Regions from separate parts of the Homo sapiens genome. Here region 1 is linked to region 2. The links come from fine-mapping of genetic effects on gene expression. A gene starts in region 2. The other region holds a variant in brackets. All regions are shown on one strand. Distances are between the middles of the regions. Region 1 overlaps MAP3K14 (mitogen-activated protein kinase kinase kinase 14). Region 2 holds the start of MAP3K14-AS1 (MAP3K14 antisense RNA 1).

Evidence for each region.
Region 1: its variant is fine-mapped to the expression of MAP3K14-AS1 in whole blood (TOPMed, PIP 0.97).

What each region holds. Positions count from the first base shown.
Region 1 is chr17:45,267,715-45,273,078 of GRCh38, reverse strand. MAP3K14 (mitogen-activated protein kinase kinase kinase 14) reads left to right here. Exons shown (of 16, transcript NM_003954.5): 10 at 1,858-2,021; 11 at 2,516-2,666; 12 at 5,320-5,364. MAP3K14-AS1 (MAP3K14 antisense RNA 1) reads right to left here. Exons shown (of 4, transcript NR_110326.1): 4 at 4,449-5,070. Among named protein-coding and RNA genes, the nearest start is that of SPATA32, 8.3 kb to the right of the region's middle. RefSeq lists enhancers at 1-86, 5,241-5,364. The variant G/A (reference allele first, on the strand shown) is at 2,836.
Region 2 is chr17:45,245,242-45,250,565 of GRCh38, reverse strand. MAP3K14-AS1 (MAP3K14 antisense RNA 1) reads right to left here and starts at 2,641. Exons shown (of 4, transcript NR_110326.1): 1 at 2,563-2,641. FMNL1 (formin like 1) reads right to left here. Exons shown (of 27, transcript NM_005892.4): 22 at 5,150-5,313; 23 at 4,833-4,934; 24 at 4,593-4,688; 25 at 4,236-4,356; 26 at 3,962-4,061; 27 at 3,248-3,699. The coding sequence ends at 3,970. It also overlaps the pseudogene EFCAB15P. RefSeq lists enhancers at 1,794-1,843, 3,094-3,163 and silencers at 2,254-2,983, 4,918-5,088.

The sequences.
Region 1 (5,364 bases), 22 kb before region 2:
CTTTAACTCCTCTGATTATTGAAATAATCCATGCCCACTGTGAAGTATAGAGTTAAGCATATAAAAGAGGCAGAGAACAGAATTCTCACCATGTCTCTTACCCAGAGAGAGAATCACAAATTTTTTTGTTGTTTTCATTGAGACAGAGTCTCACTCTGTCACCCAGGCTGGAGTGCAGTGGCACAATCTCAGCTCACTGCAACCTCCTCCTCCCGGGTTCAAGTAATTCTCCTGCCTCAGCCTCCTGAGTAGCTGGGATTACAGGCGCCTTCCACCATGCCCAGCTAATTTTTGTATTTTTAGTAGGGACGGGGTTTTGCCATATTGGCCAGGCCAGTCTCAAACTCCAGACCTTAGGTGATCCGCCCCACTCAGCCTCCCAAAGTGCTGGAATTACAGGCATGAGCCTCCGTGCCCGGCCGAATCATGAATATTTTAAATAACTCCTTCCAGGCTGTTGTTTTCCCTGTGCCTAGTTAGGGCCATTATAACACAATTTTGTGCCCTGCGTTTTTCATGTATAGCCTTAAGGATAAAATGATTTCATTTTGACCAACGGAAAAAGAATCTTTGGAAGTATATGATTGTGTGTTGTTAAAGGACTATGTTGGCAATTCTGAAGATGTAAATTGAATGTGGACACTTGACCTCCACCCGTGTTGTTTTAAGCCCTTTTAAAATAACTGTAGTGGGCTTTTTCTTGTTACAAAAAAAAATGTATCTTTTCTGATTCTTTTTAACTTTTATTTTTTAGAGACAGAGTCTTGCTCTGTCACCCAGGCTGGAGTGCAGTAGCTCACTCATAGCTCACTGCAGCCTCAAGCTCCTTGGTTCAAGCGATCCTCCCACCTCAGCCTCCTGAGTAGCTGGGACCACAGCATGTACCACCATGTCCGGCTCAATTTTTATGTTTTTTGTAGATATACATGGGGTCTCAGTATGTTGCCCAGGCTGGTCTTAAATTCCTGGATTTAAGCATTCCTCCCACCTCAGTCTCCCAAAGTGCTGGGATTACAGGCATGAGCCACTGCCTGACCCTTTTTTCTAATATCTGTTGAAGAAAGTAGAGCTAAGCAAAAATTACAAATACAAATCACCAGGAAAAAAACCACTGTTCACATCTGCCATCTATCCTTTCAGTCTTTTACGCATATAAGTTTTCTATTACAATTTTTAAATTTCACTTACTAGTATTTCTTACTAGTAAGAAGTATTACTTACTGGTATTACTTACTAGCCTTCTACAACCTAATTTGTAATGTCCAGCCCCTGCCCCATTTTTAAAAAACACTTTAAGGGTTTGGTCCAAAGGGCAGAGTCCACATCATGGATGCTCTGTTACTTTGTACAAGTTCCCAGCAGAGTCCCCGCCTAGCTCCTCCCTACAAGTCTGACTTGGAGACTTTATTTCTATATTTAAAGTATTTTAACATGTCCGGGCACAGTGGCTCATGCCTGTAATCTCAGCACTTTGGGAGGCCGAGGTGGGTGGATCACCTGAGGTCAGGAGTTCGAGACCAGCCTGGCCAACATGGGTGAAACCCCATCTCTACAAAAACATAAAAATTAGCTGGGCATGGTGGCTCATGCCTGTAATTCCAGCTACTTGGGAGGCTGAGGCAGGAGAATCTCTTGAACCCGGGAGGTGGAGGTTGCAGTGAGCCAAGATCGCGCCATTGTACTCCAGCCTGGGTGACAGAGCAAGACTCCATCTCAAAGAACTAAAAAGATAATAAAATAAAAAGTACTTTAACAGTGACAAATGTAAGATACCCCGAGGATTAACCAGGGTGGCCATTGCCTAGGCTCCTGCCCATCAGCATTCCAGGTAACTTTATGTCTCATCCCCCTTCTCAGGGGACTACATCCCTGGCACAGAGACCCACATGGCTCCGGAGGTGGTGCTGGGCAGGAGCTGCGACGCCAAGGTGGATGTCTGGAGCAGCTGCTGTATGATGCTGCACATGCTCAACGGCTGCCACCCCTGGACTCAGTTCTTCCGAGGGCCGCTCTGCCTCAAGGTCGGTGACGGCACCCAGCATGGCCAACAGGGGGAGCTGCAGGGCCCTGGGGCCCAGGCTGCAGGCTGGAGGGGCTGCTCTGCGGTGGCAGATGGAGCAAGGGGAGGCCTGGTCATCCATGTGGGATCCTAATTCAAATACTTGCCACCCAAATCTGGGGGTACAAGGGGAGATCCAGCTGCGGAGGCTCACCAAGTTCATGGCAGGTGAGAACTCTCTTCTGTCCATACCCTGGGCCCCATCCACCTGCCTCCTAACGGGCCGGGCCTGGAGGCTGTGGGCGTCTTGCTGCCTGGCTCTGGCCTGTTTTACTGGCTCCATTTGTCCCTTTCCTGGGAAAAGTGCCCTCACTGTAGCCCAGACCCCTCCATTCCTTGTGGTAGACCCCAGCACAGCGGGAACAGGGGCCGGCGGGAGTTGCGCAAAGAGCAATAACAGCCGGGTATCAGGAAATGAGGGAAGGCAGGCCTCACCTGTTGTCTTTTGCCCCCCAGATTGCCAGCGAGCCTCCGCCTGTGAGGGAGATCCCACCCTCCTGCGCCCCTCTCACAGCCCAGGCCATCCAAGAGGGGCTGAGGAAAGAGCCCATCCACCGCGTGTCTGCAGCGGAGCTGGGAGGGAAGGTGAACCGGGCACTACAGCAAGGTAGGAAGAGCCCCACGCTGGCTGACCCGGGGGGCAGAAGACAGAGGTGGACAGAGGAGGCAGGTGGGCGCAGGTCCAGAGCAAGGCACCCCTCAGAGCCTTAGTTTCCCCCTCTGGATTATGGGGGTGCAGCAGCCTCAGGGTTGTTGGGAGATTGCGACAGTGCCAC[G/A]CCTGGACCCAGAGGCAGCGCTCAGGAGATGGGAAAGAGAAAACTCACACGCAAACTCGAAGTGCTTTTTCCATTCTCCCACTCAACTACAATCAACCCAGAAGACTCCTGTGACCACATGTGTGGGGATTTCCACCCCACCAAGCCAGCAATCAGTTCTGCAGCAGACACTAGCTTGGTGTCCTCTAATTCAGTTCTGTTCCAACACTATCTACCTGGAGGTAGCATCAGATCCCACAGCAGGAGGGCTCGATCCCCAAGACTGCACCCCCTAGCCATGCCAGTCTCAGGCCCACGTGTTTACCTGTGCTTCTGACCAACTGGCTATAAGTCAGGGACCCCATGACCCCCTCCTTGGGATTGATTAATTTGCTGGAGTGGCTCACAGAACTCAGAGAAACACTTCCTTACATTTACCAGTTTATTAGAAAGGATATTACAAAGGATACAAATGAAGAGATGCATAGGGCAAGGCATGTGGGAGGGAGCACAGAGCTTCCAGGGCTTGGCACCCTCCAGGAACCTCCATGTGCCCAGCTACCAGAAGTTCTCTGAACCCGGTCTTCTTGGGTTTTTGTGTAGGCTTCATTACGTAGGCATGATTGAATAAATCACTGGCCATTGGCGAACCGCTTAACCTTTAGCCCCCTTCCCTCCCAGTACGTGGGATGGTGGGATGAAAGTCCCAACCCTCTAATCCTGCCTATGTCTCTCTGATGACCAGCCCCCATCTTGAAGCTACCTAGGGGCTGCCAGCCTTCAGTCAATCCATTAGTACACAGAAAGAGATCATTTTGGAGAGTAAGGCTTTTAGGAGTTCTGTGCCAGAAATGGGGTTAAAGATAAAATATATGTTTACTAGTATCATAAGGGTTATGATGTATAGAGGGGGCTCAAACTCACTAGGAATCCAAGAATACAAAATAAAGACAGGCCGGGAGCAGTGGCTCACACCTGTAATCCCAGCACTTTGGGAGGCTGGGGCAGGAGGATCGCTTGAGGCCAGGAGTTCAAGATCAGCCTGGGCAACATAGCAAGACCCTTTCTCTGCAAAAAAATTTAAAAATTAGCCAGGCATGGTGGCACATGCGTGTAGTCCTAGCTACTCAGGAGGTGAGAGGATTGTTTGAGCCTGGAAGGTCGAGGCTGCAGTGAGCCATGATTGCACCACTGCACTCCAGCCTGCGCAACAGAGACCCGACTCAAAAAATAAATAAATAAATAAAGCCAGGTAACACTCAAGAGCCATTTGACTGGAAAAAAGCAGAAAGTTGGTGGGATGTAGGGCTGTTGGGACCCCTCAGGTGCTGCTGATGGGCATGTGGACAAGGCTACCCACTCTGGGGGGGCACCTGGCTGCACTCAGGCAGACGTCTGCAGACTGAGACCAAGGACTTCTACCCCTGGGTGCACTGACAAACGAATGCCAGCAGATCCATATGGGGACACGCCTGAGGACGCGCACTACAGCTTCCTTTGTGGGAGGGGAGTAGGGTACGATGGGGTCCCTCACTGGGAGGACAGAGACACAAAAGGGGATGCCTCATGGAGCACCAAGCAGTTAAAGCAACTCGGCGTTCACAGAGCAGCATGGATGGATCCTAAAGCCATGGTGCCGAGTGAAAAGAGAACCCGACACAGAATGGGACCCAGAACATAATGCCTGTTTGGTAAACTAAAAATTGATCAATAGCCAGGTATGGTGGCGCACATCTGTAGTCCCAGCCACTCAGAAGATTGAGGTGGAAGGATCGCTTGAGCCCAGGAGTTGGAGTCCAGCCTGGGCAACATGATGAGACCTCATCTCTTTAAAAAAATAAAAATAAAAATAAATTGATAAATAAAACAACGCACATTTTGCAAGGACACAACCAAATCAAAAATGACACATCAAACATAATAGAATGTCACCTGAGGGATGGGCACAAAAAAGGCTGTGATTATAGGAATGAAAATGAAATAAAGAAAACCAGAGAGATCTTGCACCTCACCAAAGACAGCTGGTAGTTATAAGGATGAGGGTGGTCCCAGGGCTGAACTAGCCCCATGCCAGAACAAACGGTGCCTGGGGAAGTACCGACTGAGGATGGGGTAGGAGAGATGGTGGGTCCAGGATGCCACTTTGCCTGGGAGCTCTTGAGTTGGTGTAGCCCCAGGGCTGTTTTCAATCTTCTCTTTCTTGTTAACAAAGTCCTCTGGAGCTGATTCTGTAGTTTTTGAATTTGCTACTGATACCTAGAAGAAAAACAGAATCAAAGACAGAAATCCAGTCCTATCCCTGTCATATTGGGACCATTTTATTGAGGAAGTCTCCTGTGGAGACCACCATGCTGCCCTCTGGAGCCACCTCCCATGGTGGCCCGGGGCAGTGTCCTCCCCTTTGTTTGCCTCTAGCCCTTCTGCACTCAGGAGAGGCCGCTCCTGCCTGGACCGCTGTCTGTGCACAGCACGCTTCCCCTCACCATTGTACTCTCTGTTTTCTAGTGGGAGGTCTGAAGAGCCCTTGGAGGGGAGAATATAAAGAACCAA
Region 2 (5,324 bases):
TGGCATTTCTATGCAACAGATGCAAAGACCTTTCCAACCTCTTTCTTTCTCCTGGGGCAGCTTGACAGGCAAGACACCCCAGCAGCTGGCAGGTGAGGGCCCCAGGACTGGGAGTAGAGAAGAAAATTAGGGGGTGCTCAGGGAAAAACTACAAAGGATTGCCTGCCCTGAAGCTGGGGTCACTGCAAGAAGCCAGTGTTTGCAACCATCCCTCCATGCTTGTCTGATTTGCTCATCTCTACAACCCTAGGGCTCACAGTCTTGTGTGTGTGTGTGTGTGTGTGTGTGTGTGTGTGTGTGTGTGTGTAGGAAAGGAAAAGAAAACTCAGTGGATTGGTAGATAGGTGAATGCAGGTATTTAGATGGATGGATAGATGGATGATGAACAGGATGGAAAAGAAGGGAGAAGGTAAAGAAGGAGAAAAAATGGGGGGAAAAATCTGAGTTCCCCTGCCTCATGGGGTCTAGGACCATAGGGGTAAAGGCAAAAGAAACTACAGCCCCAGTGCTCCCCCAAACAACATGTCCTGATATTGGCAAGGGCCCCTCAAAGCAGAATCACTTTATTCATCATCAACAATGGTCAGTGCCTACTACATGCCAGGCACCAGCAGGGCTCCAAGACACTGTAGCTTCAGAGCCAGACTGCCAGATGTGACCTTGGACATGAGTTTTGAATGTTTTTCAAACATGAGTTTTGGACATGAGGACTGGATGGGCACATAACATGTACCAACACACAACAGCCACTGCTACTCTTTATATTAAAAGTTATAGGCCAGGTGTGGAGGTTGATGTCTGTAATCCCAACAGTTTGGGAGGCCAAGGCGGGAGGATTACTTGAGCCCAGGACTTTGAGACCAGCCTGAGTAACATGGCGAAACCCCATCTCTACAACAAATTAAACAATAAGCCAGGCGTGGTGGCACGTACCTGTGATCCCAGCTACTCAGAAGGCTGAGGCGAGAGGATCGTTTGAGCCTTGGGAGGTTGAGGCTGCAGTGAGCCGAGATCTCGCCACTGCACTCCAGCCTGGGCAAAGAGTGAGACTCTGTCTCAAAAATAAATAAATAAATAAATAAAAATTTAAAACACCCAGGAGGGAGTTGGAATGAGCCAAGTCGTCAGTTCCACCTGAGTTAGAGTGGGCAGCTCTCAGGGTTCTTGTGTGGGTGGTTCGTCTTGCCACCTGTCCCCTCTACCCTCAGCCTTCCAGGATATCTTCAAACTCTTCAGCTCCAGCCCAACAGGCACCGTGGACATGCACAGCATGAAAGTTGCCCTGGGCAATGTGGGTATCCAGCTGAGTCCACAGGAGACGTTCGAGGCTCTGCGGCAGGCAGACTTGGATGGTGGGTGCCCCAACCCTGTCTTCTTGTCCCCTCCCACCTCCAGGCATTCTTTTAAAGAATGCCTCCCCTTCCCACAAAATCCTGGCCTGGTCCTATTTTAAAGTTCCCTCTTCCAGGAAGCCTGCCCTGACCAACACACCTATCTCATGGCCTGTAAACGTTGCTGCTGTGTTCATCCTAATCCTGATTTGGGAACCCCCAAGGCATGGGCCGTTTCTCCCCCATTGAAACTGGGGTCTGCCCTTGGCTAGAGGCAGGACTAGATTCTCTAACACCTGGAACTGCCAGCAGGCATGTGCAAGGCAGGCCTTCTGCAGGGGGCAGGCACCCACAGCACCCCCTCTCCTCTCTCCCCAGGTGATGGAATCGTAAGCTTCATTGACTTCCTGGGTGTCTTCGATGACAACCACCGCTTGGCTCAGTGCATGGGTGAGGGGCAAGGCTGGTGGAGGAGGGGTGGGCCTGGCTTAGGGGGTGCCCCCTCCTCACCCTCCTTCACCTTTTTTGCCCCCAAGCCGGGTGAGGAACAGCCAGCTCTGTACCCCCAGGGACTGCAGACCCTGTTCTTGGAAATGCTGTTCAAGCTGCTGGGCCGGGGCTTTGTGCCCTCCAAGTTGGCACGGGGGGTGATGAGGTGGGCACAACCATACCAGCTCCTGGGCCCACAATGGGAGGAGCAAACCCTGCCCCCCGCAGGGACCCCTGATATTCCTGCCCTAGAGACGGGAGCCCTGAATTCTGAGTCTGTTTCCTGGGCCCCAAGTCGCCCCAGGACAAAGACAAAGCAGCGGCTTCCGGCCCTGCTTTGGCTTCCGCACCTGTGAGACAGAGAGGGCTGGGAGTGTCTGAGGCGGCCGCCCCGCCTCTCTTCTCCAAGCTACTACTTCAAGAAGCAGCGGGCTCTGCGGCTCAGCCCAGGCTGCGGGGGTTGGGGGGCGCTCCCACGCGGGGCTCGCCTTCTGCCACGCGGCGCGCATCAGCGACCTCTCCAACTAGGAGCTGGCGCGCTCGCTGCACAAACTGCACGAAGTAGGTGCGTCCCCGACGGGGCGGGGGGCGCCGGGACCCGCGGGAGGGACCTCTCCCGGCCACTTACAACCCCCGCCCTCGCCTCCGACCCCCAGGACCCGTTCTGAGGACCGTCTCCTCCTCCACCTCCTCCCAGGCACCCGCCCCAGGTGCGCGCAGCCCGTACTCTCAGATTCCTAACCTGGAGGGGTTGGCGCTCCCGGAACGCAGGACACGAAGCCCAGCCCCGGGCCCCGGCTTCCGCCTGATCCAGCCCTACTAGCCCGGCCGCCCCAAGATCCCGCCCAGCCCGGGGCGTGTCTCGGCCTAGGTGAGAGCCGGCGGGCGGGGGAGGGACACGCAGTGAGGGGCGGGACAAGTGCCCGGAGGACAGACAGATGGGGCGACACTGGCTGGTGGAGGGGAGGGGCAGGCGAGGAGCGGGGGCAGGCCCGGAAGAAATGGGGACCCGGCAGGCGGTGACGGAGGCGGCACGCGCGGAGATGTAAGGCGAGGTCACTTATGGCGTCACTAAGTACTGGGTAGGGCGAAAGGAAAAGGGGCCAGATGCCCGGGTGGGAGGCAGGACTGGCGCAAATGGGGCGGGGCAGCCGGAAGGAGAACTGCTGCGGGGCTGGCCCGGCGTGTCTAACCCCAGCTGCCCGCTCGCCCCCTCCGGCCTCCCGCAGGGATACTGGGCCAGCCACGAAAGCCTCCGCCCCCTCGAAGCGGGCTCCCTCGCCGCCAACTCTAGTGAAGAAGCAGCCCTTCTCCCCGGCGCCCGCTGGTTTGCAGAGGCCTGCTATGAAGAGCTTGTGCAAGTAAAGCGTTTGCTGAGCGGAAACAGGCTGCGGGTGGCTGCGGCAGGCATGGAGCCGACGCGGATCTTTTGCAAACATCTTTATTAATCTCATATAAAAATAAGGTCCATGGACGGTCCTCGGGGCTGGGGCTTGCGGGGGCGAGGTGCACTTTATAAGTTACAGGCCAGGCTCCTGCTGAGGCTAAGTATGGCTATTTGGAGGGGGCTTTAGGGTGGGTGCTGCAAGCAGCATTTGGGGGAAGGGGCGGGCGATGCTGCCCTCTGTGGCCAAGAGGAGGATGCACCAGCCCGTTTGAGGCGGGCCACAGCGGAGGAGGGGCTGCCCGGCCAGCCGAGCTGAGGACCACCTTCCTTGAGCCTCAGCCTGTCCACGGCCCCACACCCCTGCAGAATCCACCTGCAGAAATAGCGGCTACAGCGAGAGGTCGGAGGTGACCTGCAGTGGGGGGCCCGGGGGACGCCGACGGGCACTGCGGCGGCCTGTGTCTGCGCGGATGTAGGGCTGGTTCCGCAGATCTGGCAGCCGAAGGAGACACATTTACCATTCAGGAGTCCGCCCAGAGCTGGGAGCATGGCTCCAGGGCACAAAGCTTAGCCTCCTAAGGACTCAGATTGTGTGCACATGGCAGGGGTACCGTTTATGTTTGCCAGACCCCTCCACCCCACAAATCACATCCCAGCCATCCACTGGCCCAGGAGAAGGCAGCATGCCTCAGTTCTCCCAAGGGTCCCAGGGGCTGTGGGCAGCGTGGTATCAGAGGCCAGGTCATCTGGGTACCTGAGGGGCTAGAGGGGCATCTCTTCTCCCAGGCTGGCCTCACAGAGGAGCCGGGATGTCCGCTTGCCGGTGCGGGCCGTGAAGGGCACCGTCTTGATCACTGAGTGGGGGTGGGGCAGGTGAAGGGGAGTAGAGAAAGGAAAAAGGAAAGAAAAACAGAAAAGGTAGCAAGAAGCAGTGTGGCAGCCAGTCCCCCAGAGGATAGCGCATTGGGTCAGAAGAAAGCATAGAAGGACAGACTGAGGATAAGACCAAGGCCTGGCCAAGCCCTTACCTGTGATGATGTCTTCAATGGCCCCATCACGGTCGCTCTCATAAATGAGTGGCTCCTTCTGCTGCCTCCGTTTCAGCTCAGAGATGAGGTCCATCTGTGGCCGCCGGGCCTTTGGCGGTGACTAGGGGGAATTTATAGCTCCAGCTCCAGGATGCCTCCCCATCACCAAAACCCTGGAATATCTGCCTGGTCCCCCACAGCAAGGACAGCTGGCTTGAGCAGAAAGAACCCTTTCCCATCCCAGGCTCCTGGGGCAGGGTCAGTCTGTAACAGTGAGGGTGTGGGGGTGGCACCAGAGGGTGATGAGATGCCATGCATCCCTGCAGCCCAGTACCAAGCCCAGGAGCAGTTGCCTACCTTGGGTGCTGGGGGCTCCCCTTTGCCCGGGGTATCAGCGCCTGCCTCCTGGGCAGCGGCTTCTTTTTTCCACTGTTCCACCTCCTGCTCAGCTTTCTGTGGGCCAAGGCAGTCTCCATGAGGGTGGCCCTCCCTACTGCCCTACCCACCCCCTAAACAGAAGCAGCCCCACCCCTCCGCTGCCCAGTAGAAAGGCTTCAGTGCCCTACAGGGCTCCCAGCCTGCCCCAGACCCGAATACCTTGTAGGCCTTAATGAAGCGGCTAAAGAGGGAGAAGAACAGGCCTGGGGATGTGGTCTTGGGGTTCTCTCCGAAGTACTCCACCACAGACTCAAAGGCCTCCTGTGGGCACAGCCTGTCAGCCCCCCAGCTTAGACCTCTCACAGCCTGTACCCCTCAGGACACTGGCCACCTGATCTGAGCTCCTCCCAGGCAGGGTGGCCCCTCATTCCTGCTGCATCCCCCCAAGGGGTCCCAGCTACGGCCACACCCCTCCAGGCTGTGCTATCTAGTGCTCCTACATGCCCCACCTCCAGGTGAGGCCAGCCCTGGCGCACCTGAGCCGTCTTGCTGTCTGCCAGCAGCTTGTCCATGGTGGGCGAGTTGGCCCTCAGGAACTCCTTGAGCACCATGCAGTCATCCTGCCGCACAAACTCTCTCTGTGTCAACTCTAGGCCTCGCTGCAGGGAGCGCACGTCCGCCAGGACACTGTCCAGGGACACTGGGCCAGGG